4 linked regions of the Homo sapiens genome follow. The protein of the gene in region 1 interacts with the protein of each later gene in a pairwise test. Each region holds a gene or a part of one and is shown in the gene's direction. Other genes may lie near its edges. The genes, in order: HNRNPC, KPNA3, EPS8 and KPNA5.

Region 1 (7,029 bases):
GAGCTTCGGAGGTCTAGGCTGTATTGAGCCATTATTGCATCACTGCACTCCAGCTTGTATGACAGTGAGACAGTGTCTTAAGGAAAGATGAGTTGTTTTGTTCCACATTTTCTAATTTATGTGTCTGTGTGATTTTCTAAACTTCGTAGTTTGTATTAGCTGGGCATGGTGGTGCCCGCCTGTAGTGACAGTTACTCTCGAGGCTGAGGCAGGAGAATCGCTTGAACCGGGAGGTAGAGGTTTCAGTGAGCCAAGGTGACACCACTGCACTCCAGCCTGAGCGAGAAAGCGAAACTATGTCTCAAAAATAAAAAAAATAAACTTTGTAGTTTGTTTTACCCGGATACAAAGTTGTCATTAACATTTTTACTTTTGTTTTTCAGATATTAACCTGGCTGCAGAGCCAAAAGTGAACCGAGGAAAAGCAGGTGTGAAACGATCTGCAGCGGAGATGTACGGGTCAGTAACAGAACACCCTTCTCCGTCCCCTCTACTCAGGTCCGGAACTTTATTATTTATAACTGCATTGTGTCCATCAGTGGGCATCTTCTCTTTCTGTTTTCTGGGTGTGGGGAGGTTTAAGTGTACTGTGTTTTATCTGTGTATAAATAAGGTTTTATTATTTTTGTGTTAATATGTCTCTTTTTTGCCCTAGAGAAAATTTCTAGAGAATTAAAAATCCCTGAGGTTTTTGCTATTGATATTAAAGAGTAGTTTGATATTTATAGCATAACCTGAAATACTTATACAGGATCGTTGAGCTTCTAAGACACTAGAGAGTAAGAGAGGGTAGAAGTGTGGTATAAGAATGCTTAGTTTACCATTCTGTTTTTCAGTGTTTAGTTTAGCTATGTCGTATGTGGAAATCTTAGCGAATTTTAACCTGAATTTCCAATTTGACCGCTACATTTCCAGTGGTCTAAGGTGATTGGAATTGAGTGATTTATTGTATGAATGATTGGGGATCATTCAGTGCTAATCTTGTTGATCTATTTGTTGTGGTTTATTTGGCATGGTTCTCCCCTCACCTGACATTGTGAATTAGTAGAAACATTTCCAAATTAACCCTTTTCGGTATTTATTTTTCAGCTCCTCTTTTGACTTGGACTATGACTTTCAACGGGACTATTATGATAGGTATGTTAAAATGTTTTGTATTTCTGCTAAACAGCTATTTAGTGAGAACCATTTCGTTCTTCTGGTTTGTGGTGATGAACATCAAAGATGTTTTCAAACATACTCCCCTAACTCCAAAACAAAAAAACACCTTTTTCTAAATCATTAAGTAGATTATTAGGTAGGGTGATACTGATTTTAATGCATTATTTCATAATCCCTGGCTAACGTGGTGAAACCCGTTTCTACTAAAAATACAAAAAAATTCGCTGAGTGTGGTGACTAGGGACTGGGTTATGGGTGGCTTTGGGTAACAGATTTAGAACTGTTGATAGCAAATGCTTAACAGGAAATAGGATGATGTGCTTAAGAGTGTTACCACATTGACATTCTGATAACATCAGTCTCAGTTAACATGAAGGAAATGTTAAGACTTATTTGGCTTGTCGCGTTCAAACTCATGCAGTATATGTAAGTATATGGAGCAAACTATTGTATGCAATAGACTTTAAACATGCAATATATAAAGCATATTACTTTATATACTATTTGTCTTATAATGCCAGTATTCCAGTCATTAGTATTTTAATGTTATTACTGTATATAACAATTCAGTCTGATTTTGGAATAAAAATTACTGATTGGGGAATGCTTAACATTTGAACTGAGTTAATCAGTCATGCATGGGAGTTGTAAAGGAATCAAGTCAGCCGTTAAATACCATAAAGTATACACTGAAAGTGTCAGACATGAAAGTATAGACTTTCTGTTTGAGAAATAACCTCACAGAATATGGTACGTAGTCATTAGAAGGCCAGAAGAGTAAGGCCCGAAAAGGAATTCAAATCCAGATTGTAAAGGGCCTTGAATGCCATAATAAAATGGTGTGGTTGAGCATCATTAATGCATCATCAAAATGTTTTTTTCATTTGACATTAGCGGTTTCCTCAGATTTTTTTTTTTTTTTTTTTGAGACAGTCTCGCTCTGTCGCCCATCCTGGAGTGCAGTGGCGCAATCTTGGCTCACTGCAAGCTGCGCCTCCTGGCACAGCCTCCTGAGTAGCTGGGACTACAGGCGCCCGCCACCACACCCGGCTAATTTTTTGTATTTTTAGTAGAGACGGGGCTTCATCGTGTTAGCCAGGATGATCTCGATCTCCTGACCTCATGATCCGTCCGTCTTGGCCTCCCAAAGTGCTGGGATTACAGGCGTGAGCCACCACGCCTGGCCTGATTTTTTTTTTTTTTTTTTTTAAATACGGAATTTTCCTCTCGTCACCAGGCTGGAGTGAAGTGGCGTGATTTTGGCTCACTGCAACATACGCCTCTTTGGTTGAAGCAATTCTCCTGCCTCAGCCTCCCAAGTAGCTGGGGTTACAGGCATGCACCACCACTCCCGGCTAATTTTTGTATTTTTAGTAGAGGCTGGGTTTCACCATGTTGGCCAGGCTGGTCTCGAACTCCTGAACTGAGGTGATCTACTCGCCTTGACCTCCCAAAGTGCTGGGATTACAGGTGTGAGCCACTGTGTCCAGCCCTTTCCTCAGATTTTTACAGTTATGTGTGAACATTTTGAAAACTAAGGAGTTCTGTAATTCTTCATTTTTATTTTTGTTGAAATTTTTGAAATTCTTAAAAAATAAAAATCAGCTGGGCACGGTGGCTCACACCTGTAATCTCAGCACTTTGTGAGGCCAAGGCAGGTGGATCATGAGGTCAGGAGTTCAAGACCAGCCTGGGCAATATGGTGGAACCCCGTCTCTACTAAAAAAATACAAAAATTAGCTGGGCGTGGTGGCACGCGCCTGTAGTCCCAGCTACTCAGGAGGATGATGTAGGAGAATTGCTTGATCCCGGGAGGTGGAGGTTTCAGTGAGTTGAGATCGCGCCACTGCACTCCAGCCTGGGTGACAGAGTGAGACTCCTTCTCAAAAAATAAAACAAAATAAAAATCAATGGAGAACTTCCAGTTGAAAATAAATCAGGACATTACTAGTGAACTCAGCCCATTTATTCCTGAAATTGCAATTTTTTGAATTTTTGCAATCAGACCTTGGTAATGACCTAATGCAGTAGGATATAAATAACTCCGACAAGCTTAGCATTCCAGTAATGGAACATTAGGCATAGATGGGTTAATTATTGGTCAGGTGTCTTGAAGGCACTGAAACCCAGTGAGTTTGTCTGAAGCATCTGCCCTTTAACCCTTTCTGCACATGGTAATTGCTTGACCACATTTAAAATATACTCATGCCAGCTTCTCCTATAGGGATTCTTACACAACTGGTCTTATGCAGACTTTCTTAAGTACTAGTATATTTTTCAGTGCTTTCTATGTGTTCTTTTGTCCAGTCAGAGTTGAGAATCATTAATAAAAGATTAAGGACGTGGTTGTGTTTCTGTGTATTATTATCCTATTTCTTTGTCATGGCTCAATTCAGACCAGTTTAATAAACTCACACTTTTGTTGGTATAATTTCAGGGATGTCATGGACTCTTAGTTGATGTTTTTTATGAGTGTATCAAGTTTTAGCAGTATACAGTGACAGTCTTCTTGAAAATAGTTCTCATTAAAAAGTCTTTTCTTGGCAAGGCACATTGTGAATGGGGAAATTTGAAAATTTGAGCAGGGAATTTGGAAAACATTAGTTGAGACAATGAGATATATACTGCAGAGAAATCTAAAGAAATCACGTTTGCAGAAATATCTTCACAGAAATTGGTGGCCTCTTCAGATTTTCAATAGACAACAATATATTAGGTTTGAGCAAAAGTAATTCCGTTTTTGACATTTCTTTGAACGGTAAAAAGCAAAACCGCAATTATTTTTGCACCAGCCGATACTAGTAGTTACTGTCGGATATATTGCTGCATGTTATTGTCAGTGAAAAGTAATGTCTTCTATTGTTCTAACGTCAGCCAGTAGATAATGATTACTGATAACTAGTGGAGCAACTAGGTAATAGCTGGCAAAGAGCTGACTTTTAGAGTACTGAGATCTTTGTTGGGAAAATGAATTTTAGGAGGTGTCCACATGATGGGAACTTACTCAAGTTGGGTTGGAGAATTGAGGAATTGAGTGTGTGTCTTACATGATAGATGTTAATGAAGGTGAAAGGAGGAGGAGTGTTTGTTTAGTGGGGAGAGGGGCAGATACAGGAGTTTTTTGCTGGTTTGGAAAATGTTAGGTCAATTTGGACCTGGGAAATAGGTTGGGTATGACCTGGTGGAATAACAACTTAGAAAAATGGTATTAATATCTTCTAAGAAGTCATTCTGAAGATTCATTATCATAAGGTTTAGATTTTTATTTTAAATGGTAACAGCGATACTTCATTGACTATGTTAAATTGTTTAATCAAAGAAGATGGGAAATTGGCTCTGAGTGAAAGCTCTGGGTCTTCATATGTAAATCGGAGTAAAAATCACTGTCCCCCCCCCCCCTTTTTTTTTTTTTTTTTGAGATGGAGTCTTTTCTGGCACTCAGGCTGGAGTGCAGTGGGTTGGTCTTGGCTTACTGCAACCTCTGCCTCCTGGGTTCAGGCGACTCTCCTGCTTCAGTCTCCCAGGTAGCTGGGATTACAGGTGTGCACCACCACACACAACTAATTTTTGTATTTTCAGTAGAGACAGTGTTTGTCCACGTTGGCCAGGCCGGTTTTGACCTCTTGACCTCAGGTGGTCCACCCGCCTGGGCTCAAGGGATCTCCCTGCCTTGGCCACGCAAAGTGCTGAGATGACATGTGTGAACCACTACGCCTGGCCCTCTTTTTAATATTCATTTGAAGGCGCTGGTTTTGTTTTGCGAAAGGTGTTGTAATAAAAGTGAATTTTTATCACAATGTTGGGAATGCACAAGTATTCAAAGCTGTAGTTGTTGAATTAAGCGAGATTGGGAAGTACTCTAAAAATAGATCTTTAAGTCCTTAGGTAGGCTGGCATATACATGAAATTGATGTTCGTCAACAGCTACCCTGGTACTATTCTTTCTTTCTTTTTTTTTTTTTTTTTTCTTTTGGAAACGAGTCTCGTGCTGTCTCCCGGGCTGGAGTGCAGTGGTGCAGATCTCGGTTCACTGCAACCTCCGCCTCCCAGGTTCTCGAGATTCTCCTGCCTCAGCCTCCTGAGTAGCTAGGATTACAGGTGCACACCACCACACCCAGCTGATTTTTTGTATTTTTAGTAGACATGGGGTTTCAGTATGTTGGCCAGACTGGTCTCAAACTCCTCACCTGACTTCATGATCCATCCACCTTGGCCTCCCAAAGTGCTGGGATTACAGGTATGAGCCACTGCACCTGGCCCAACCTGGCACTATTCTTATAATTCTTTAAAAAATTCTCATAAAAGTCTTGATCTATATGTGTTTTCTGATTTGTGCCACAAATACTGCAGTGTTTTCATACTAAAACTATATCTAGATATAAACTAGATATATTTTCTTCAGATTGTAATAAATTGGAACCCCACTTTCCCTTATAATTGATCACCCATGAAATTGTTCTCAAATTAGATAATGGTGATATTGCAGAACTAATAAAAACCACGGAGTGGCACCCTTTTAAATGGTGAATTTTATGGTATGTGAATGACGTTTTGATTGAAAATGGATGCGACATTACAATTGAAAAAGGATACATCACTGTCTTATGGACAGTCATTCTTTTTTGTCATATCTCGTGGACCCTACCTACATCAGGATACTTGCCAGTTAGAGACATAGATGAAACCCGTCTGGTGCTACCAGCCTCAAAAGGTAACTCTTACGCCTGAGGATGGACACCTTTTAGAATTAAAAGAACTCTCAGTCATTGTGGGACATCTTGCTAGCCTTCATAGAGACTGATTTACTGTCAGCTCTTTTCTTGAGTCGTCTCATCTCTCTCTGTTTTTTTTTTTCCTTTTTTTGAGACAGAGTCTTGCTCTATTGCCCAGGCTGGAGTGCAGTGGCTCGATCTCGGCTCACTGCAACCTCCACCTCCCAGGTTCAAGTAATTCTTGTGCATCATCGGCCTCCCAATTAGCTGGGGTTACAGGTGCCTGCCACCATGCGTGGCTAATTTTTTTTTTTTTGTATTGTTAGTAGAGACGGGGTTTCACCATGTTGGCCAGACTGGTCTCAAACTCCTGACCTCAGGTGATCTGCCCACCTCGCCCTCCCAAAGTGCTGGGATTACAGATGTGAGCCATCGTTCCTGGCCTCTTTAATTCTTATTTGGAGAACTTTGGGCAACACGAAATAGAAACTGCCAATAAATGGCAGGTTTGATAACAGGCTTTATTATGACAGCGGAGACTTGGTGAGCAAGAAACCTGGTTCAAAAAGACTGGTTTAGTTCAATGGTCTTTCTGAGGACTTTTTAAACTTAGCACATTTTGTATGTGGTGCATGACTAGTAATACAGTATATAAGTAACGAGTATGAAATTCTTAGAGGTTTTCAGAGTGCTGTTATTACTCCATGGCTAAATATATTAATATGTCAGTGCATTAGAAATAGACAAATCTTCAAGAACTCACAGGTCAAAGATGACACATGTAACAAAGATTGAGTTGTGAGGGGCCTTGATGTGTTTGAGGAGCAGCCAGCTGTAAAGTAAATTGTAAAGAATGTTAGTTGTAAAGGGCTTTGTATTACATGTTCTGGGATTGTGTCCTATAGATGGTATTTTAGAAACAGGCCTGTGGCTAGAGGAAAAAAGATGTGTTAAATGGTAAACATTGTAAATGTTGGAATGGAGAGGAGGTTGGGAGAATTTCTGAAGTAGATTGGTCTTGATGTGATTGGTTGGACTAAAGGTATGAAAGTAGGTGCTTGTAGGAAAATAATAGTCAAAAGCTGAGATTTTGTCTTCGTGACTAGATGATAGATTATGCCATTAATGGTTACATGAAGGGGGGTTTCACAGAGTT
Region 2 (6,892 bases), on another chromosome or scaffold:
AAACATTCTGATAATGGCCGGTGATGAAGCAAGCACAATAGCTGAAATAATAGAGGAATGTGGAGGTAAGAGTGGATTGATGGAAGAAGAGTATTTGAGCACTGGAACTCTGAAACATAAGTTCTTTAAAGTCAACTTACTAGACAGAAAATTACTAGGATACGTTGTTTTTAAATGATCACAGTATGTTGCTTTTCTTTATTCACTATATTTGCATTCCAAGAGGATTTTCCAGAAGACAGTAGTCCATACTTTGCAAAATCAGGTTGTGAAAGTCACTGTATAGCCTTCTAGAGATTGACAACATAGCTTTTTTTTTTTTTTTTGGAGACAGAATCTTGCTCTGTCGCCCAGGCTGGAGTGCAGTGGCACAATCTCAGCTCATTGCAACCTCTGCCTCCCGAGTTCAAGCAATTCTCACACCTCAGCCTCCCAGGTAGCCGGGATTACAGGCGCACACCACCACACCCAGTGGATTTTTGTGTTTTTAATAGAGACGAGGTTTCACCATGTTGGCCAGGCTGGTCTCGAACTCCTGACCTCAAGTGATCCACCTGCCTCAGCGTCCCAAAGTGCTGGGATTACAGGCATGAGCCACTGCGCCTGGCCTGACATTGCATTTTAGGAAACACTAATACTTCTCTTGAAGTCACAGTGCATGACAGCAAATTTAAGAGCCCTTACAACACTACATAAATTTTAAAGCTTTATTTAATCCAGCATTTCTTAAACTTCTTAACAATGAAACACTTTTTTTGTGTGTTATTACCATGTAATTCTGTGGACCCCACTTTAGGAAATATTATTTCATATAGTTGGAAAAGGTTACTGACTTCTGAGTCACCTAGATATTTTGTTTCAATCTTGTAATGATTCTTAGGATTTCCACAACTACATCCTGAAGTTATTACTGTGGCAGTTACTTTGAAATTTTAATGAGAAATAATTGTGATTTGACATACTGTATTATTCTTTAATGACATGTGAAACATATGTTAAAATTCTGTTTTTAAATGTACATGTTCAATATGTACTAACATGTTTAAACCTTAAATTAGTTTATCATAATGTCATGTTTTAGATTTTACATTTCATTGACTACTTTATATGAATATTCTATTGTTTATTTATTTATTTATTTTAAGAGAAAACAAATGCAGTAGTACCGTAGAATATTCAGACTGGGAGGATTTCTTTCTTTCTATTTATTTATTTATTTATTTATTTATTTATTTATTTATTTATTTATTTTTTATTTATTTATTTTTTTTTTGAGACAGAGTTTCGCTCTTGTTGCCCAGGCTGGAGTGTAATGGCTCACCGCAACCTCCGTCTCCCGGGTTTAAGCAATTCTCCTACCTCAGCCTCCCTAGTAGCTGGGATTATAGGCATGCACCACCACGCCCGGCTAAATTTTTGTATTTTTAGTAGAGGCAGGGTTTCTCCGTGTTGGTCAGGCTGGTCTTAAACTCCCAACCTCGGGTGATCTGCCCGCCTCGGCTTCCCAAAGTGCTGGGATTACAGGCGTGAGCCACTGCACCCAGCCGGGAGGGTTTCTTGAGAAGAAATTATCCCACAGATTTTAAGGAGTCTTGTCCAAGGTGACAGAAGTAGGTTGTGATAGAAGCAAAGTTAAAATCCAGATCTTCTTACTATTAAGATAATTAAAAATTGTAGTCAGGTTCATAACACAGTAAGTTTGAGCAACTTAGAGAATTACTACTCTTCAGCTTTTTATCAATATAGTTACTTTTGTCTATAGGAGTAATAGGATACATATTAATATTTTATAATTGTATAAAGCACTTTGGCAACGATTTCCCCCATTCTTTTGGTTTATTAGTATATAAGAAAAAATTGCAACTATTTTAAAATAACCTTCAAAAAGACATTTCAAGGAAGAATATTAAGGTGTGAAATTGATAAACATGTATATGATGTGTGGAGTAAATATATTGGAAATATAAATGAAGGCATTCTATGATATCTGTTCTGGAAATATTTTCTCCCAGGTTCATTGTGGCTATAGGACATAAGACCTCTATTCATTTTTTAAAGAAAGTTTTTCAAAATTTAAATCTTTATATCTTTTATACCAATTATAAGGTTCTAAAAACTCATTTTGTGGTTATATAAAGGTAATAACATTTGGAAAACAAAGAGAAAGATACAAATTACTTTATGAGGCAGTAAGATTAATAAGATTGGCCGGGTGCAGTGGCTCACTCCTGTAATCCCAGCACTTTGGGAGGCCAAGGCGGGCGAATCACGAGGTCAGGAGTTCGAGACCAGCCTGGCCAACATGGTGAAACCCCGTCTCTACTAAAAACACAAAAAATTAGCTGGGCATAGTGGTGGGCACCTGTAATCCCAGCTACTTGGGAGGCTGAGGCAGGAGACACTTGAACCCAGGAGGTGGAGGTTGCAGTGAGCCGAGACGTGCCACTGCACTCCAGCCCTGGCTACAGAGTGAGACTCCGTCTCAAAAAAAAAAAAAAAAAAGAAAGAAAGAAAAAATGCCCAGGCGCAGTGGCTCACGCCTGTAATCCCAGCACTTTGGGAGGCCGAGGTGGGCAGATCACGAGGTCAGGAGATCAAGATCATCCTGGCTAACATAGTGAAACCCCGTCTCTGCTAAAAATAGAAAAACTTAGCCGGGTGTGGTGGCGGGCGCCTGTAGTCCCAGCTACTTGGGAGGCTTAGGCGGGAGAATGGCATGAACCCAGGAGGCGGAGCTTGCAGTGAGCCGAGATCACACCTCTGCACTCTGCACTCCAGCCTGGGTGACAGAGCGAGACTCCGTCTCAAAAAAAAAATAGATTAGTAAATTTATATTAAAGCACTGTGGGGGAGTTGGTTCTAGTACTGTCACAAACTTGCCATATAACTTGAAATAAGTCTCTTTACATATTTATGCCACAGCTTCCCTCTGTCAAATGGATTGTTTGGGTGTTTTTTTAGACTGTCTGCCTCAGGGATCCGGGTACCTCAAGGGCTTCTAAGAAGGAAAAAATTAGTGGGATTCTGGTCCTCCAACTAGAAGCAGCCCCGTGTTTTGTCTGTTTTTTAGACAAACCACTATCTTAGATGGGGGAGCAGTGTGTTCTGAGTTCCTTAGGATTTCTCCATGATTAAAATGAGTGTGGTTTTGATTAGTATCTCCTTATCAATTAACCAGTTATTTTGATTATTTTATTTTTACCAGGTTTGGAGAAAATTGAAGTTTTACAGCAACATGAAAATGAAGACATATATAAATTAGCATTTGAAATCATAGATCAGTATTTCTCTGGTGATGATGTAAGTAGATATTAAAATAGCGTGTATCTTCATGTAAATGAAAACCTATACATGATGTAAATTTACTAAGAGTTTTCCTTTTATTATTAGGATGACATAAGTTTGTACTGTATTTCTATTAGACATTCCATCAGTCACTTTCTCTTAAATACTTTGAAACTTCATTATAAGGTAAAGTTGTAAAAACAGTTCTTGTTTCATTTCTAATCTATTAACTAGGAAGAAATAGTAATTATATAAGTGATATATGTTCAGATAGGTTAAATAAATCTAGGTCCCAGATACAGAAACTTAACAATGCAGTTTCGAAACGTGTTAAATTTTAAATTGTTAAATTTCTTAATAAAATTATTGATTTACTCGAATATTTTTAGTTGGTTAAAGCATTCACATAGAATTATTTGCTAAGAGGTAAAAAGTCAATTCCACTTACATCATAATGTATAGTATCATAACCTAATAAGGATTTTTTTCTTGTTTTTTACAGATTGATGAAGATCCCTGCCTCATTCCTGAAGCAACACAAGGAGGTACCTACAATTTTGATCCAACAGCCAACCTTCAAACAAAAGAATTTAATTTTTAAATTCAGTTGAGTGCAGCATCTTTCCCACATTCAATATGAAGCACCACCAGATGGCTACCAAATGATAAGAACAACAGCAACAAAAGGCTCCAAAACACACATGCCTCTTTGTTTTGATGCTTCTAAAGCAAGCCATGTCTCAGTCACTTTGCAGTTGCCAAAAGTCACTATCACATGGACTGTAAATGCATATGCATGATTTCCTAAACTGTTTTAGAACTCTCCTTAACAATCTCAACTACCCTATTTTTCCCTGTTCCCTGGTGCCACAGGCTGACAACTGCAGTCTCCAGTTTAGAATAAATATTCCATAGTGGTGACATGTCAGCTGCCCACTGATACTCCTTTGGAAAATGGTGCGCTGTGGATCAAGACACTTTGGTATGATGCATATACAAGTTGGAAGACTAAAGAGGTGCAGTGTGATCTGAGCCTCCATCATTGTCCTCCACAAACATATTTTCATATTCTTTATGTGGAAGAATAGATTTTAAAGTACAAGCCAAATGATTTTCATTGGTGGAACTGACACAAAAAAAGTAACTTAAAAACAAGAAACTTGGTTATTGAATAAACAGATAAGTTTAAAAAAAAAAAAAAACTACTTCATCTACCAGTAATTGATGTGTTTATTATCTGCCTCAGAAGCCAGGGTTGGAGGAAGAACTTTAGATATGGATATTAATGCTTTTGCCATTATACCTAATTTTTGAGAACAGCAAGCCCTATTTGACCACTCTCTTCAGCCTGTGTGTTCCTGCTGTTTTGAAGTAATCAAATGCTGTGCATGGTATTTTACCTGAGCTGCAACCTGTTATGGACTTGAACTTCTGTTTAAGTTGAAAGCAAGAGTCCCTGAGTATAAAGGAAAAACAGCAAAACAAAAAGCAAACAAAAAAAAACTGCAAAAGTCTAAAATACCCATTGGTGATGTTTTTTAAAAAAATCTTGCTTTCAGCTTTCAGGAGTTAATATTCTTTGTTTTAATTTGATAATTGGATATGGTTGATTTATATTGGGTTTAAACTGTGGAGCTTTCATGTTTACTGTAATTTAGTCTTAAAATATTTTTTACTTAGTAACCAGTGCTTTTGATAATGTGGTTGGCAACAAACCAGCAACTATTTAGAAGTGTCATAAGAGTTCATTCTTTGAGTATTGGGAAAGTTAATTCAGATCCTACTCAAAAAGCATCTTCACATATTAAAAGATTCAGACAGGGATCTGTGTAGAGGAGTAATTTGCAGTTATTTAACATAAACCTGATTTGCAGTGATCTCTAAGTAATTCTGCAAAATCCGGTATTACTATGTCAAGTTATTGCTTTTGGTAAATTGTCTGACCCAGTTATTAATGAAAGAATATGGATTTAAAAATTTTTAAACTAAATAATTTGTGCTGTCACAGAAATGGTATTGTTGCTCTTGTTTACTGGGTATAATTTCCCAATGCATTGATGTGAAGGGATAGAAAATCTAAACTAATTTAGTTATCCATTGGGGGGTGTATTTACTGTGATGAAGATGAGACAGATGCCATCAGAGCTTTGTGAATCAGCTGGGGTGTTTTCACTGATAAACAACACATAGCAGGTGTGCATTCATTACAAATATATGTATCTGCCAAGGTGGAGCCACTTTAAAGAGTGAGTTTTGTCTTGTATCTAAAGTGGATACAAGCGTATGTTTAAACTGCAAGATTTTTACTTGCTAGAGAATCTGTTTTAATATAGTGGTTTGGCCTCTGATTATTTATAGGTTTTATAAATTTTAGAATCAATTTCTCTTTAAGGTGGCTCAGATTTTTCAACTCTTGTGCACATAAAATTGAGTTGAAGTTCATTGTGCCTTTTTTTCTTTATCCAAATTTTGAGTTAAAGCTTCATATGGTAACTGCATCCTGTTCGGACACTATAGTCTAAATTTTTGAAACTGTGTGGTGTTCGCTAAAAGTAGGAATAACAACGTAAAAGCTAATTAAGGTCACAAACTTCGGTGAAACCCTTAAAAGTCCAAATCTTCTTGATATTGTGAACCGTACCCCTTCCAGTTTAGTTTCTTCTGGACTTTCCTTACTTAACTGACAGTTACCTTTTAAAATTTGCACACATTATGATTAAAATTGGGCCTCTACTGTGATGATTCCTATTTCCTCTCATGTTTTAAAGTGCAAACTAACATTTAAGTGAACATTAGCATCAAGTAGTGCAGACACTTGTATGCATTTCCTTGATTCAATTTGTGACCTTACCAGTTTTGAATTGGAATTGCACCATTTCGTAGATAAAGGAAACTAAGTATATTGCTGCACTTTTAAGTTTTCAAAACAGTGTTTAAAAATTGCATTGTTATTTTTTTTTAAACTCAGTTTAAAAAGACTAAAACGTTCTTTCAAAAGAGGCATCTAAATGTGTTCCTAATTTTGTATATGGGCTTAGGTTTTGTAACCAATAAAAAAAGCTGCTATCAAATATGATAAAACATTGAAAACTTATTTCTGAAAATAACTTGTTTGTTTTCTGTATGGTTAAATTTAAATTTGGAATTATTTTTTTAAAAATCACAATGGAGGTAAATCATGAATTACTCTTTTACTGTATTTTAATATCTCCTTCACACCATATTACTGAACTAAACTGGAGTCTGTTCACCTGGCACAGTTAGGCCAAACATTCATAGCAAGGTTTTGCAGCAGGAAAAAGGAGGGCATTTATCTGCAGGCAGGGCACCAAACAAGAAAAATGAGGCAGCTCACACTTAAGACCCAACTTCCCTCATGGCTTTACAAGCAAGGGTTTTTAAAGGCAGGGGTGAATTTCAGGAAAGCATAAATTACAGGCAGAATTGTACATCAGTACACAATGGTTTGGCCTAGAAAGGTGGGCTGTCTTGAAGCCGAGGGTGGCAGGGGGTGACTTATAGGTCATAGGTGAATTCACAGATTTTCTTATTTGCAGTTGATTAAGGAATCAAAGCTTTGTCAAAAAACTTGGGGTCAGCAGAAAAG
Region 3 (7,029 bases), on another chromosome or scaffold:
CTCCCTTACTGTGGTTGAAAGTTTTTGTAAGTATAAAGTAATATGAGTTCTAGCCCATTGTTTTATTTAGAGAGAGGAATACTCAGCAGCTGCTTTTATGTTACTTTTTTCTTGTTAATGGCCAAATCCTTACTCTCTAAGGAACATTTTTGTTTTTAGAGAAAGAGAAAAAAAATTCTAAATATTAGCTGTATCTTTGAATATTAGCCGTTTCAAATGTTATATTATGCATAAACAGCAATGCATGTGAAAGGGAATTAAGTGTAAATACCAACACCTGGATGCTTTTTATACTTGTAGTTCAACTAATTAACAAATTAAATGAAACCTAAATTTAGTATTTCTGATCTGGGAGTTGAATATCAATTTTTGCAATAGTGTATGATAAAATTGTATGTAAATATTTTTCATCGTTGGTTACTGAATTCATGTAATTCTGTCTGTTTGGAGTTGTACATTCTGGACCATGACATAAAAGCTAATAGACAAAATAGTGAAACACAACCAGTGGTTCTATAGCCAAGTAAGTTTCATCCTACCTCTAATTGATTCTGAGCGAGAAAGAGAGGCAGGGGCCAGAATAGGAGGGGAAATAGACTTAGTCTTATGTTAGGAGTTGAGCAGCTTGTACTACTAGAAACCTAAAACCCTACTGCCATGTTTATTCATGAATTTATTATTTAATATACCATTTGACGATATTTACATTCTTAATTTGGAAAGGAAAATGTTCTGCTTGAAGAGATAGTATATAGTAGATGAGTTGCACACTGTTTTATAAAGTTCATTCCAACATGCAGCCAAGGATGAGAACCACTGTTAGCAAAAGTGGTGAATTTCATTAGAGGATTCATCTTGAGTAGTGTTGAGAGATTTTAGTTAGGCTTTTTATACTGTTTTAAGGCTTTGGTGAGATTTCTAGCTTAGGAGCCTAATTACTATTTATACCAGTTCTTGTGAATACATGTGATTCTCATAAAAAAGAAATGTATTATAATTGCCTTTTAGGAAATGTCTTTCAAAATTGCCTATTAAAATGTTAATATTAACCTTTATGGATTGACTTAAAAATCACTGGAACTACTAGTTTATTTATAAGTCCATTTATGGCATTTATACATTTTTAGGATCTTTAAAAGGTAGTTTCTTATACAACTTATTTATTGTACAACATAGAGAAAGCAGCTTAGGAATTCCTAAAGTGGATTCTTAATTTGGAATATTAGAAATGACACCATATCTTCTAGGCACTCAGAGTGATCGGTTAATGTCATACTGTTTAAAATGCTATCAGATAGTTTTTCTTCTCATTTCTGTAAATTATGTTTCTGTGGGATTGGGAAACTATGGGTTAGGAAATCAAGAGGTCAGGGATAAATTCTTAATACTTCATAATGAGAATATCTAAATAGAAACACACAGTATTTCAGATCTTCAACTGTTGTATTTGCCAATAAATTACCTGAAAGACAAAGCATTTGAACATCCAGGAGCTGCCATATCATGACTGGGTGTCATGGCAACCACTGCCATTTCTTTTCTGTCCTAAGGTCAGATCAAAGCAAGCCGAGCCCTCCTGCTCTGAATCTATCGTGGACAGTTGTGTTAGAATATGGTGAACCAGTGACTCTGAAATAGTGATTATTTCTAGATGTGGTTTTGTGAAATATATTCCTGAATTATATATTGTATTACAAGAGTCATAACGGCTGTCACAGGGACAATTATCGATGTGTTAATATCTCACACTGATTAATCCTCAACAACTAATCAGAAAAATCACAGTCGCTCACTTTTTAAAAATATGTAGAATACAGTCATGTAAGTGAAGGTTTATGTTTTGTTATATTGGGAGAGAAAATTTTAGGTGAAACCAGATCTTTCTTTTTGATGACATTATTTTGGTAGGACCAGATGGATCATACTTCCTCAGGTCATCATCCAAACAAAAAAAGAAAGGTAGCACAGAGTGAATTTTGTAGTGCATCTGTTTTTATTAAGTAATTTTAATGCTGCAAAAGCAAAAATGGAGTGTATTGGAATATCAGAGTAATATTGATACAAGGACATGGAGATTTTAATCTAAATTTTAAAAGTAAATATAAATGAAATTCATATGTGTTGTAAAATGAAAATTTATTAAGTTTTCTTAAAATTCTGTGTTAATGTTCTGAGTCTGCATATGTATATATGCACTTTATATTTTTGTACTTGCTCAGCTTTTATGTTCAGCAGAACTTTCCAAACAACTTATCTATTATAGAATATCTATACTAACTAAAAGAAATAGGTTTACATTTACAAAAAAATAGGTTGTTGGGAAAGCTAAGGTATATCTATATGTCAGAATGTTAATGGCTTAAAGGCCTTTAGGTTTGACCTTGTTTAATCCTTTTATTTTACAGTAAGGGTGCTGAGGCCCAGGGTATTAAGTTTCTTGCCCAAATTTAGTTTCCTACTTAGTGACAGAGCCGAAGCTGGAACAATAAATCTTATAATTCCCTCTCAGAGTTATTTTTCATCATAGCATTCTGTTTAGAAGAAATAGGGCAACTCTGAATTTACAAATAAGCAAGTTGCTTGATTAGAAAAGTAACAAATAGTGCTCACTTTGGCAGCACATATACTAAAATTGGAATGATACAGAGATTAGCATGACCCCTGTGCAGAGATGGCACTCAAATTCATGAAGTGTTCCATATTTTAAAAAACAATACAAATTTTAAAAAGAGAGTAACAAATACCAAATATTGCCGACATACATTTTATATTTTAATGTTATTTTTTTGGTTTTGCAGCATTTCAGAAAAGAAAATTAAAGGTTTCTTTTTGCTTTTTAAGTAGTTTGGTGCAATAACTTTCTACCTGACTTTCTTGTTTTTCCTATCAGCTTATATTTATAATTCTAAGTATCACATTTGTGTGTTTTGTAGATGTGTGAAAACTGTTAATATTTAATGGCAAGCCATGTGATTGAATCATGTTTTAAATCTCCTCTAACACTATCCCAATTTGGATATTGCAAAAGGAGATGTTCCTTGTAATGCCTATTATTTTAATAATGTAGTCTAACTCATATAATACAGTATCTATGACAATATTTGCAATTACATTTTGATATCAGTGCAGTAACAGATGAAATTTATAAGCCAGTTGTAATTGACTTGTCAAACAGTAGGTCCCTGACTGATAAATAAAACCTTTAGATGAAATAACTTTTTTTCTTATAATATTTATACTCTTGTTAACCTTTGGAATTCTAAAAATGGATAGTGGATCAAATTGTTCTTGCCTATTATTTAGACTTTCTTGTGGTTTTTAGATTTACTGCGAATAATGAGTGTTTTCAGATACACCACACAATGGCAACTTGTCAGCTACTGTATTTATATGTGAGATAGACTAGTTTTAGAGATAGCCACATGATACCAACATATGAACTTCAGTCTATTAGGGGACAAATCATGGCTTTTTCAATTTCTCTTTCAGAACAAAGGAAGAATTATGCACGGGACAGTGTCAGCAGTGTGTCAGATATATCTCAATACCGTGTTGAAGTAAGATGCTTTGGTGTTTGCTAGTATTTAGAGTGACCCTTGAGGAACATAAAAATTGGAAGTTAAATCAGAATTCTGTTTTATTTCATTCTTATGATGTATTTTAAGTTGCATTGACCTTTTTGTTTAGATTTTTTAAAACAGATATTACATATAAAGTATCTTGTTAGTCTGTGGTCTATTTTCATAAAGAATGATTTAAAATCATAACTACTATCCATTTATCCTTGCCAGTCTTATTTCACTTATAATAGAATAATGGCTTTTACTTTGTACTATAGAATCTTCTTGAAATTAAGCCTTTGCTAGTTTCAGTGAGCAATTTAGTTTTTAGTTTAACTAAAGTTATTGCCAGTTCTAGTTAAATAATGGTTCTTTTTTAGTTTTTGCCCTCTTTTACGATATTTGCTCTTGATTGGAATTTATCTGGTTGACCTGTGCTTATAATAGAAAATATTTAAGCAGGGAAGTAATTTTTAAATTGCTCTTATTTTCAGTTTTCTACCTATGTCAAGCATGCTTAATCAAATTTAAACAGTTTTGTTTCAGTAAGTGGTTTTAGTGGATTGAATAGTTTGACAGTTCCTATAGACTAGAATTGTGCTGTTGCTACAATCAGTGTCCATAGTTTTGAAGCTCCCATACAGATAGCCTGCTGTTTAAATGCTGCTATGTTCAGCATTTAAATAACCATAATAGAGTGTCAAATAGGGGAAAGTTTATTTTAAGAGAATATTATTTAAGCTGTTAAGAATTTGTTTTAATGTCATGTTTATGTAGTTCAACATGGCTCCGTATGAAACAGATTTAGGTATCTTATGAGTCAAAACACCATTTCTTCTATTCAAAAAAAACCTTGGTTGGCTTTATTCTCTCATTAAAATAGTCATGAAGTTTTAAGAGTACTTTGTGTTTGTCGTTCTCTGCTAGCTGACCTCAGGTTATTTGATTTTCTTTTGGAAAATGTATACTAAGAGGTTGTATGTGTTTGTATGTGTTATAAATCTTTTTCCTTTTTGCCAATTGTAAGCACTTGACTACCTTTGTCCTGGATCGGAAAGATGCTATGATCACTGTTGATGATGGAATAAGGAAATTGAAATTGCTTGATGCCAAGGGCAAAGTGTGGACTCAAGATATGATTCTTCAAGTGGATGACAGAGCTGTGAGCCTGATTGATTTAGAATCAAAGGCAAGTGTGTAAAATTTATACTATTTTATTTTCAAGAAACTCCACAAATATTAATGTTTACAATCATTTCAGATTGTTTGAAAATGGATGGAAGTTTGACAAAATAAAATGTTCACTTTATTTATAGAATGAACTGGAGAATTTTCCTTTAAACACAATCCAGCACTGCCAAGCTGTGATGCATTCATGCAGCTATGATTCAGTTCTTGCACTGGTGTGCAAAGAGCCAACCCAGAACAAGCCAGATCTTCATCTCTTCCAGTGTGATGAGGTTAAGGTAAAAGAATGGTGAAATTTTTGTTTCTTCTTTAAGCAGATTGTCTGGGAGCTTTTGAATTACCTATTTTGATAATATATCTGCATATTAGTTACTAGATTTTTAGTTTCTGAGCATCTCGTAAGGAAAACAAATACCTTAGTATCTTCTCTAGGATTTCCATGGCAAGTAAATAAAGAAATTAGGGTGATGTTAATCAAATCAGTAGTTCACACTTGTAATCCCAGTGCTTTGGGAGGCCAAGGCTGTAAGATGGCTTGAGGCCAGGGGTTTGGGCCCAGCCTGGACAACATGGCAAGACCCAGTCTCTACTAAAAAGGTTTTAAAAATTAGCTAGATGTGGTTGTACACGCTTGTAGTCTCAGCTACTCAGTTGGCTAAGGGAGGAAGATCTCTTGAGCCAGGAGTTGGAGATTACAGTGAGCTATAATCACCCCTCTGCACTCCAGCCTGGGCAACAGATTGAGATTGTGTCTCTTAAAAATAAGATGCATTCTGTTTATTTTTTTAAAGTGTAGATAATATATTAAATTCACATCAAATGCCTTAAACTTATAATTAAAAATTGATTGTTCAGAAATCTTGCTTTGTGGACAGTAAATAATCATGTAATTTGAATTTATTCTGCACTAATGACATAGCATGGATTACTGCAATGAAGTACTTAGACATTTCCCACGATATTGATTTAAAGTTCACCATTTAATTATGTGACTTGATTCATTGCTCAGGATTTGTAATTCCCAGATGATATGTGAAAATAGTTGAGCCAGTAATAACAGGCTATATCCTGAAAGTTTCTATTTCAAAGTACAGTGTAATTTCAAATGATTATAATTTGTGATGCTTTATTGGACCTTAGAAGTTATCTTCAACCTTGAATGTGTTTATTTCCTCAGTTGTTTTCTTTAAAAGAGAAATCATTTTGTGTTAATTGGTACTTTGCCAAAGCAGTGATTTAACATTTTGATGATATATTATAAAATATCCATGTAATTTTATTTTATAAAGAAACTCTAGGAGATTAGCACAGTTACTTGATCTTTTCTGTGTTTTTTGACATTTAAAGATGATAGATAAAGTAAGATTGACTGTAAACTGTATTTTATAATTTTCTTCTAATTTCAATTTACGTCATGGATGACTTTCTAAAAACCTTCTTCTAAAAGAACTGGCATTTAGGTAATTTGTGTAAGTGATATTCATCAGATTTTTGTATAGTGCCTTTTGAAAGTCATAGTATATTATAATTTTTGTAAGGTTAGATATATTCAGTCAATAAATATTAAAGGGAATATTTTGCTTTAAAAATATAGTGAAATTTAATTCAAACATTTTTATAAACCAGAGGCCTAAGTTGAAAAACATTTCAAATTTGATGTTTGTATCTGTGTTCTAAAAAGCCCCCCCCGGGAGCTAAAAGTTACTATGCTGTGAAAAGTTTCTGGATTTTAGGTTTGGGAACAAATGGCTTGCTTTACTTGATATGGAATGGTAATGATAATGGATTCAAAATGTATTTACTGAATATAGTTTTGTCCTAACCCCAAAAGCTCACATACCACGAAGCACTGTATGCATTTACTCATTAGTTTCATACTCTGCATATGAGACATTTTTCGCTTGGCTGGTTAAAAATATAGAGGCAATGAAAAACGCAGTTTCTTTTATATGGCTCATTGTGCAATATTGCTTTTGATTTTTAAAGTTTCTTTATTATAGGACTTCATGCAATGCTCCTGCCCACCTTTGCAGTAAAATTTTTCTTAGAAATATAATAGCCCCAGTATAAGAAGTTGAAGATTCCTAGGCATCTTCAGTTTTCATTTTGGGTTTTTTTAAATAATTATTTTTAATTAAATATCTTTTCATCTTCAGTTTTAGTATCCTATGTAACAGAAAGCCTTTGACACGATATTTGTAATGTCTTATTGAAACTAAATGCTCTTAGGAAGTCACACTGGACTGGGATGCATTGGCCTCTCATTTAACTAGCAATGTGA
Region 4 (6,858 bases), on another chromosome or scaffold:
AAAGTTAAGTATATCAAATTTTAATTTTGCAGTGATCAACAGGATCTCAGAAGAAGTATGTTCTTACTTTGATAACTTACCTGCTTCCTTATTCCATTTGGGCTGCCATAACAAAAATACCAAAAATGGGTTGACTTATAAACAGTAAACATTTACAGACAGTCCCCGACTTATGATGGTTTGACCTATGACATTCCAACTTTACAATGGTGCAAAAGTGATACACATTAATAATAAACCATACTTCAAATTTTGAATTTTGATTCAAAAATTCTTTATAACTTTATTCTGACATAGGCTTTGTGTTACATGACTTTGCCCAATTGTAGCCTAAGTGTTATGACTATGTTTACAGTAGTCTAGGATAAGCTATAAGGCTCAATAGGTTAGGTGTATTAAATGCATTTTTGACTTACAATATTTTTCAACTTACTGATGGGTTTGTTGGGAAATAACCCCATTGTAAGTTGAGGATCATCTGTATTCCTCACAGTTTTGGAGGCCAGAAGTCCAAGATCAAGGCTCAGACAAATTTAGTGTCTGATGATAGCCGGCTTCCTCATAGACAGTACCTCTACACTCACATAGTGGATAGGCAAGGCATTTCCTTTGACCTTGTTTTACAAGAGCACTAATCCCATCATTAGAACTCCATCCCCATGATGTAATCACCTCTCAAAGGCCCCACTTCTTAGTACCATCACTTTGAGGGTTAGGTTTCAACACATGAATTTGAGAGGGACAAACATATTCAGACCATAGCATCTGCTTAAGTAAAAAGAAATTGGTGAGCCAATGGGTTAGAACCCTTTCTTTTCCATCATGGCTTGTGGAGGAGGTAAGCTAATAGGGCAATACGCTCTCTACTGTTGAGGCAGCAGCTTTTGGGATAAAAGGACCACTGAGAAGTGGATTTTATTTTGACAGGCAGATTGGGAAAGATGCCATAGAAGGTCAGGTCTTGGTAGGAAGTTGCTGTGGTTGGCATTGCATACAACTAATGAAGTCAGCATCTTGATACCAATCCTATTCCTCCAGTTCTTTCCTGGATATGAAAAGCCGGGACCTAGACCCTGCTGAGCAGAGGTCTAAAAGACACCATTATCATCTCTTCTGCCATATCTATCCAGAGGGAAGGCATGTCCAGATAGCAGGAATCTTCTTCAGGAGTATAGAAACAAGTGCAGACCATCTAAATGAGAACAAGCAAAGCCAAATTTATTTGGAGCTTACAATAGCAAGGGAGTCAGCCATCATCACTTGCATTTGTCAGAGACTCAACGGCAGGCAGAGGAGTGAGAAAGCTTTAGAGTGGAAAAAAGGGAAAGCTTCAGGTATGCCAATTCAAGGCTGTTGGCATGGAGAAGCTGCAGGTGGGCTAACTAAAAGCAGGGCATCCTATGTAATTATTTAGGGGTGGGTAGATATTTGGCTCTCTCTAGCTGGCCTTGAGTTGGAAGCCCTGACAAAACTTACAGAAGCTGTAAGTTATTAATCACGTCCTGGCCATTTGGGGTAGATTGCTACAAGGGTTATTGCTTGGCTTCCTGGACTGGTTGCTAAATATAGTAATCTGATTTCTTGGACTGGTTACTGGACATAGTAGGTTGCCTTCCTGGACTGGTTGTTGAAGGTTGTAGGTTAGTGTTCTATTTGTATATATTCTCTGGCCATTGTCTATTTGAATTCAGTCTCCCAGGACGGAGGAGTAGGGAGGAAATAAGAAAGGGATAGGGTGGCCAGGTGATTAAGGCAAATAAACTCCTATCAGTACTCCAATAGTCCTGTTGTCAGAGGCGTTTGAACCAGAGTGACTCCAACTTGAACAGGTGCTGGGTAAAACGAGGCTGAGACCTACTGAGCTGCATTCCCAGGAGGTTAGGCATTCTTAGTCACAGAAGATTGGAGGTCCACGCAAGATACAGGTCACAAAGACCCTGCTGATAAACAGGATGTCGTAAAGAAGACAGGCCAAACCCACCAAAACCAAGATGAAGACAAAAGTGACCTCTGGTCATCCTCACTTCTCATTATACGTGAATTATAATGCATTAGCATGCTAAAAGACACTCCCACCAGCACCATGACAGTTTACAAATGCCATGGCAACATCCAGAAGTCATACAGTCTAAAAGAGGGTAGAACCCTAAGTTCCAAAAATTGCCTGCCCCCTTCCTTGAAAACTCATGAATAATCCACCCCTTGTTTAACATATAATTAAGAAATAACTGGCTGGGCGCGGTGGCTCACGCCTGTAATCCCAGCACTTTGGGAGGCCGAGCCAGGAGGATCACCAGGTCAGTAGATTGAGACCATCCTGGCTAACACGGTGAAACCCTGTCTCTACTAAAAATACAATAAATTTCCAGCTACTCGGGAGGCTGAGGCAGGAGAATGGCGTGAACCCGGGAGGCGGAGCTTGCAGTGAGCCGAGATGGCGCCACTGCACTCCAGCCTGGGCGACAGAGCAAGACTCCGTGTCAAAACAAACAAACAACACACAAAAAAACTATATACTCAGTCCAGCAGCCCAAGCCACTGCTCTGCCTATGGAGTAGCCATTCTTTTGTTTCTTTACTTCTTTAATAAACTTGCTTTCACTTCACTATATGGACTCATGATTGGCAACGCTTTCTGGTAACACTGCCCAGGTTTCCTTTGTCAAGCGTGCCTTTCTCAGCCCTACATACCCACAGTTAAATAATCCCTTCTCTCCTGTTTATTTTTCAACTATTGAAAATAGCAAACATCTTAAAACAATTTGTCTTCATGTTTTTCCTCTTAAAAAATTGCAAACGTCTTCTGGGCAGGATTTATGTATTGTTTATCTTATTTATTCTCTTCCTATTGCATCTGGAACACAGTCTGTTTTCAATACCGTTTGTTGAACTCCAGGGTAGATTACAGGGCTGTGTATTATAATCTACAGTACTTTAACTGAAGTTACTCGTTTATTGGTGACTACATTGCTGTCAAAAATACACTCATGTGGCTGGGTGTGGTGGCTCATGCCTGTAATCCCAACACTTTGGGAGGCTGAGGCGGGCGGATCAGGAGGTCAAGAGATCAAGACCATCCTGGCCAACACGGTGAAACCTGGTCTCTACTAAAAATACAAAAATTAGCTGGGCGTGGTGGCGCATGCCTGTAGTCCCAGCTACTTGGGAGGCTGAGGCAGGAGAATCGCTTGAACCTGGGAGGCGGAGGTTGCAGTGAGCCGAGATCGCATCACTGCACTCCAGCCTGGTGACAGCGCCAGACTCCGTCTCAAAAAAAACCCCCCAAAAACAGAAAAACAAAAACAAAAAACCGCAGATGTTATAGAATATAAAATTATAAATGACAAAAAGCTTGAAATAAAACGAGCAGAGCATATAAAAGTTAATGAAGCTGAAGAAAACGTGAGCTTCTCCGTACACTTAACAAGGCTGCGATTTTTACCAACTTTTTTGCACTGTTGTAGCCCCAATAATGTATCTAAAATGGTACTTGACACAGTTTATATCCTTAAGAATGTATGCATGCACGCACGCGTGAAGAATGAATGAATGAGGGGTCGTCCCTTTGCACACACGGAGGTCTACGGGCCGCAGAGTACCTACAGCATGGCCACCGCAAGCGCAACTAAAATCCAGGGCTTGTCGCAGGCACAGGCTCCTCCTTCGGTGGGTGGGACGGCGGCGCGCACTTTCTCTACGCCCCACTGCTAGGATGTGCGGCCACCACTCCTCCTCCGCCGCCGCCGCCGCCGCCGCCGCCGCCGCCGCGTCGAGTGCAAGGGCTTCTGGGAGCCGAGCCTCGGGGTCTCGGAGAAGGGGCGCAGGTGGCCGCCATCTTGGATTGCGAACTGGGTCGCTACGCTTCACGCCAGGGGCGGAGTGGCGGCCCTTCTGTTACCCGCCACACACGTCGCCGCTGGGGACTGGGAAATCAGGGCATCGGAGAGTGCCACATTAATGGGTAAGTTGGAGTGAACACGGGCTAGGTTGGGGGAGCCTCGGTTTTGGTCCCTTTGGGAACTACTAGTTCCTGGGGCCACGGTTTTTATTTACCCCTTACTTTGCGAAGGTCTCTGGAACCTGGCGGTGCCGGGTGTTTCTCGTGTTTTCCCCAGGGCGACAGCGGTCGCGGGGGCGTGGCAGCCGGACCTTTCCCTTGCGGACGCGAAGGCGTGGTGAGTTCAGATTCTTTCAGCAGGTCCTCTGGAGTGATGGGCAGCTGGTCTCATCTTCGCCGCCCCGCCTCACCGTTTCTCGGTAGTTCTTTTCAGTTAATGGAATTGCCAAACGTTGCCACTCATACCTGGTACCCATCAGCTGTGTCCAGCAGCTTATGGAAATTCCACAGTGTCCAAAGAAGAGACAGGTTCCATCCCGAGGGCCTCCTAGCCTCGCCCTCTCCATCCGCCAGCCTCCCTCCTCCACCTGCGTGCAGGTGCCTCTAGTGCTCATTCCCGACGACAAGGCAAGCCTGGGTTCCACGCTTCTAATAGTCGGGCAGCTCCGTTCTAAGATGAAAACTTAGGTTTTCATCGATAATACATAGGAGATGGAAGTATTTGAAAGCTGTGAAATGACAGTGATATGTCTAAAGAATATGACATTGGCGGCGGGCGCGGTGGCTCACGCCTGTAATCCCAGCACTTTGGGAGGCGGAGGCGGGCGGATCACGAGGTCAGGAGATCGAGACCATCCTGGCTAACACGGTGAAACCTCGTCTCTACCAAAAATACAAAAAATACAAAATAAAATACAAAATAATAAATACAAAAAAAATACCAAAAATACAAAAAAAGGAAAAATTAGCCTGGCATGGTGGTGGGCGCCTGTAGTCCCAGCGACTCGGGAGGCTGAAGCAGGAGAACGGTGTGAACCCGGGCGGCGGAGCTTGCAGTGAGCCGAGAGCGCCATTGCACTCCAGCCCGGGCGACAGAGCGAGACTCTGTCTCAAAAAACAAACAAAAGAATATGACACTGGCATTTACTTTTGAGCTTTTTAGACATGTTTTTTAAAAAAGACAAAAACACTAATGATTTATCTCTCAATTACAACACCCAATAATGATGACTCATATTCTGTACAAAAGTGGTTTTCTTGGTAGGTCAGGAGCAACTCTCTCCCTCCGACCTAAGTACTGCTTGTTTGGTTGTGAGGGCTCTCTAGTTGGCACTTCCCCCGCTTTGTGCAGTCTTTTACTTTCACTAATGAGGCGCCCAGCCCCATGGAAATGAAGGCTTTACTGGCATAAGAAATAATGTCGATTGATATTAAAGAAAATCATAAGTTCAGATTCCAGTTATTTGCCCAACTTAAACATGGTTTTTCTAAGAGCCGTTGAAAGCTTATGAATGAAAAAAATTCCTCTATTCTGTAACTTTAAAGTGCTGGAATAACATTTCTAAATAAAAATATTTAATTTTTATGAGACCTCAGCCTTTGAAGTGCAGCCTTTAAATTTATTTTTCAGTGAACGAAACAATCCCATTGGATGGGGCCCCTTTAGAGATAATTTCCCTTGGTTTATTGTCCCCTTTAAAGCAACTGCAGTGAGGATGGATGCAGTGTTAAATCTGAAGCCGGAAGTCAGTACTATTGAAGAAAAAGGAACAAGTGATATCTGAGTTGTTGGTGCTGTATTTTATTTGGCTAAAATTTATGCTGAACAGTTACAATGTGGTTGCTTGGATTAATGGTCTCATAAGTAGCGCCTTTGTATGTGTGCGTGGTGGGGCACAAGGTGATCCAGTCAGATGTGGTAAGAAAATATTAGAACTTCTATTTGTTTACCTTTTAAAACTTTCATTCTTAAAAATTTCTGTTTTTTGTGAATTTTATGCTAGAGTAGTATATTAGAATAGTAATGCATGTATAGAAATAAATATATTGAGGATGAATGCACAAATGTATTTTACGAATGTAGGATGTGTGATTGAAAACGTTTAGAGCCAGTGGCCTAGAATATGCTACATATATAGGTGATAAATACTTTAAGAGTTTTATTTCCATGAGCATTTTATTTTACTTAAATATTTTATATATATTGAGCGTAATTCAACAACTAATACTGTGGTCAGTTTGCACTGTAATGAACTCTGATCTCTAATTTTTTCCTTTCAAGAGTCTAGCTTTTTATAGATATAAAATAGAGAATAATACCAAACATTGTTATTAGTAAAGTTATGTTGAGCGGTTTCCCTCTTTTATTTATTATTTTTTTTTGAGATGGAGTCTCACTCTGTGGCCCAGGCTGGAGTGCAGTGGCATGATCTTGGCTCACTGCAAGTTCCGCCTCCCGGGGTTCATGCCAGGAGTCTCCCTCCCGGGGTCTCCTGCCTCAGCCTCCTGAGTAGCTGGGACTACAGGTGCCCACCACCACGCCCGGCTAATTTTTTGTATTTTTAATAGAGATGGGGTTTCACTGTGTTAGCCAAAATGGTCTCGATCTCCTGACCTTGTGATCCACCTGCCTCGGCCTCCCAAAGTGCTGGGATTACAGGCGTGAGCCACCGTGCCCGGCCTTTTTTTTTTTTTTTTTTTTTTTTTTTTTTTTTTGACAGAGTCTTGCTCTGTCTCCCAGGCTGGAGTCCAGGCTGGAGCGATCTTGGCTCACTGCAACCTCTGCCTCCCGAGTTCAAGCAATTCTCCTGCCTCAGCCTCCAGAGTAGCTGGGATTACAGGCTTCTACCAGCATGCCCAGCTGATTTTTGTATTTTCAGTAGAGACAGGGTTTCACTATATTGGCCAGGCCGGTCTTGAACTCCTGACCTCAAGCGATCGACTCTCCTTGGCCTTCTAAAGTGCTAGGTTTACAGGTGTGAGCTACCCCGCCCGGCCATATTGAGCAGTTTCTAATGATAT

The links.
Region 2: the proteins of HNRNPC (region 1) and KPNA3 interact in binary tests that used the Homo sapiens proteins (3 or more experiments, as listed by UniProt).
Region 3: the proteins of HNRNPC (region 1) and EPS8 interact in binary tests that used the Homo sapiens proteins (3 or more experiments, as listed by UniProt).
Region 4: the proteins of HNRNPC (region 1) and KPNA5 interact in binary tests that used the Homo sapiens proteins (3 or more experiments, as listed by UniProt).

Annotation. Positions count from the first base shown.
Region 1 is NC_000014.9:21,224,427-21,231,455, reverse strand, and holds part of HNRNPC (heterogeneous nuclear ribonucleoproteins C1/C2), read left to right. Parts: intron 1-383; coding exon 384-459; coding exon of another isoform or gene 460-498; intron 499-1,089; coding exon 1,090-1,137; intron 1,138-7,029. UniProt on the Homo sapiens protein: Binds pre-mRNA and nucleates the assembly of 40S hnRNP particles. Interacts with poly-U tracts in the 3'-UTR or 5'-UTR of mRNA and modulates the stability and the level of translation of bound mRNA molecules. Single HNRNPC tetramers bind 230-240 nucleotides.
Region 2 is NC_000013.11:49,698,794-49,705,685, reverse strand, and holds the end of KPNA3 (importin subunit alpha-4), read left to right. Parts: coding exon 1-65; intron 66-3,205; coding exon 3,206-3,300; intron 3,301-3,787; coding exon 3,788-3,886; 3' UTR 3,887-6,366; downstream 6,367-6,892. UniProt on the Homo sapiens protein: Functions in nuclear protein import as an adapter protein for nuclear receptor KPNB1. Binds specifically and directly to substrates containing either a simple or bipartite NLS motif.
Region 3 is NC_000012.12:15,667,384-15,674,412, reverse strand, and holds part of EPS8 (epidermal growth factor receptor kinase substrate 8), read left to right. Parts: intron 1-3,489; coding exon 3,490-3,557; intron 3,558-4,587; coding exon 4,588-4,749; exon of another isoform or gene 4,750-4,753; intron 4,754-4,876; coding exon 4,877-5,026; intron 5,027-7,029. UniProt on the Homo sapiens protein: Signaling adapter that controls various cellular protrusions by regulating actin cytoskeleton dynamics and architecture. Depending on its association with other signal transducers, can regulate different processes.
Region 4 is NC_000006.12:116,677,379-116,684,236, forward strand, and holds the start of KPNA5 (importin subunit alpha-6), read left to right. Parts: upstream 1-3,832; 5' UTR 3,833-3,956; coding exon 3,957-3,960; intron 3,961-4,068; exon of another isoform or gene 4,069-4,114; coding exon of another isoform or gene 4,115-4,174; intron 4,175-6,858. UniProt on the Homo sapiens protein: Functions in nuclear protein import as an adapter protein for nuclear receptor KPNB1. Binds specifically and directly to substrates containing either a simple or bipartite NLS motif.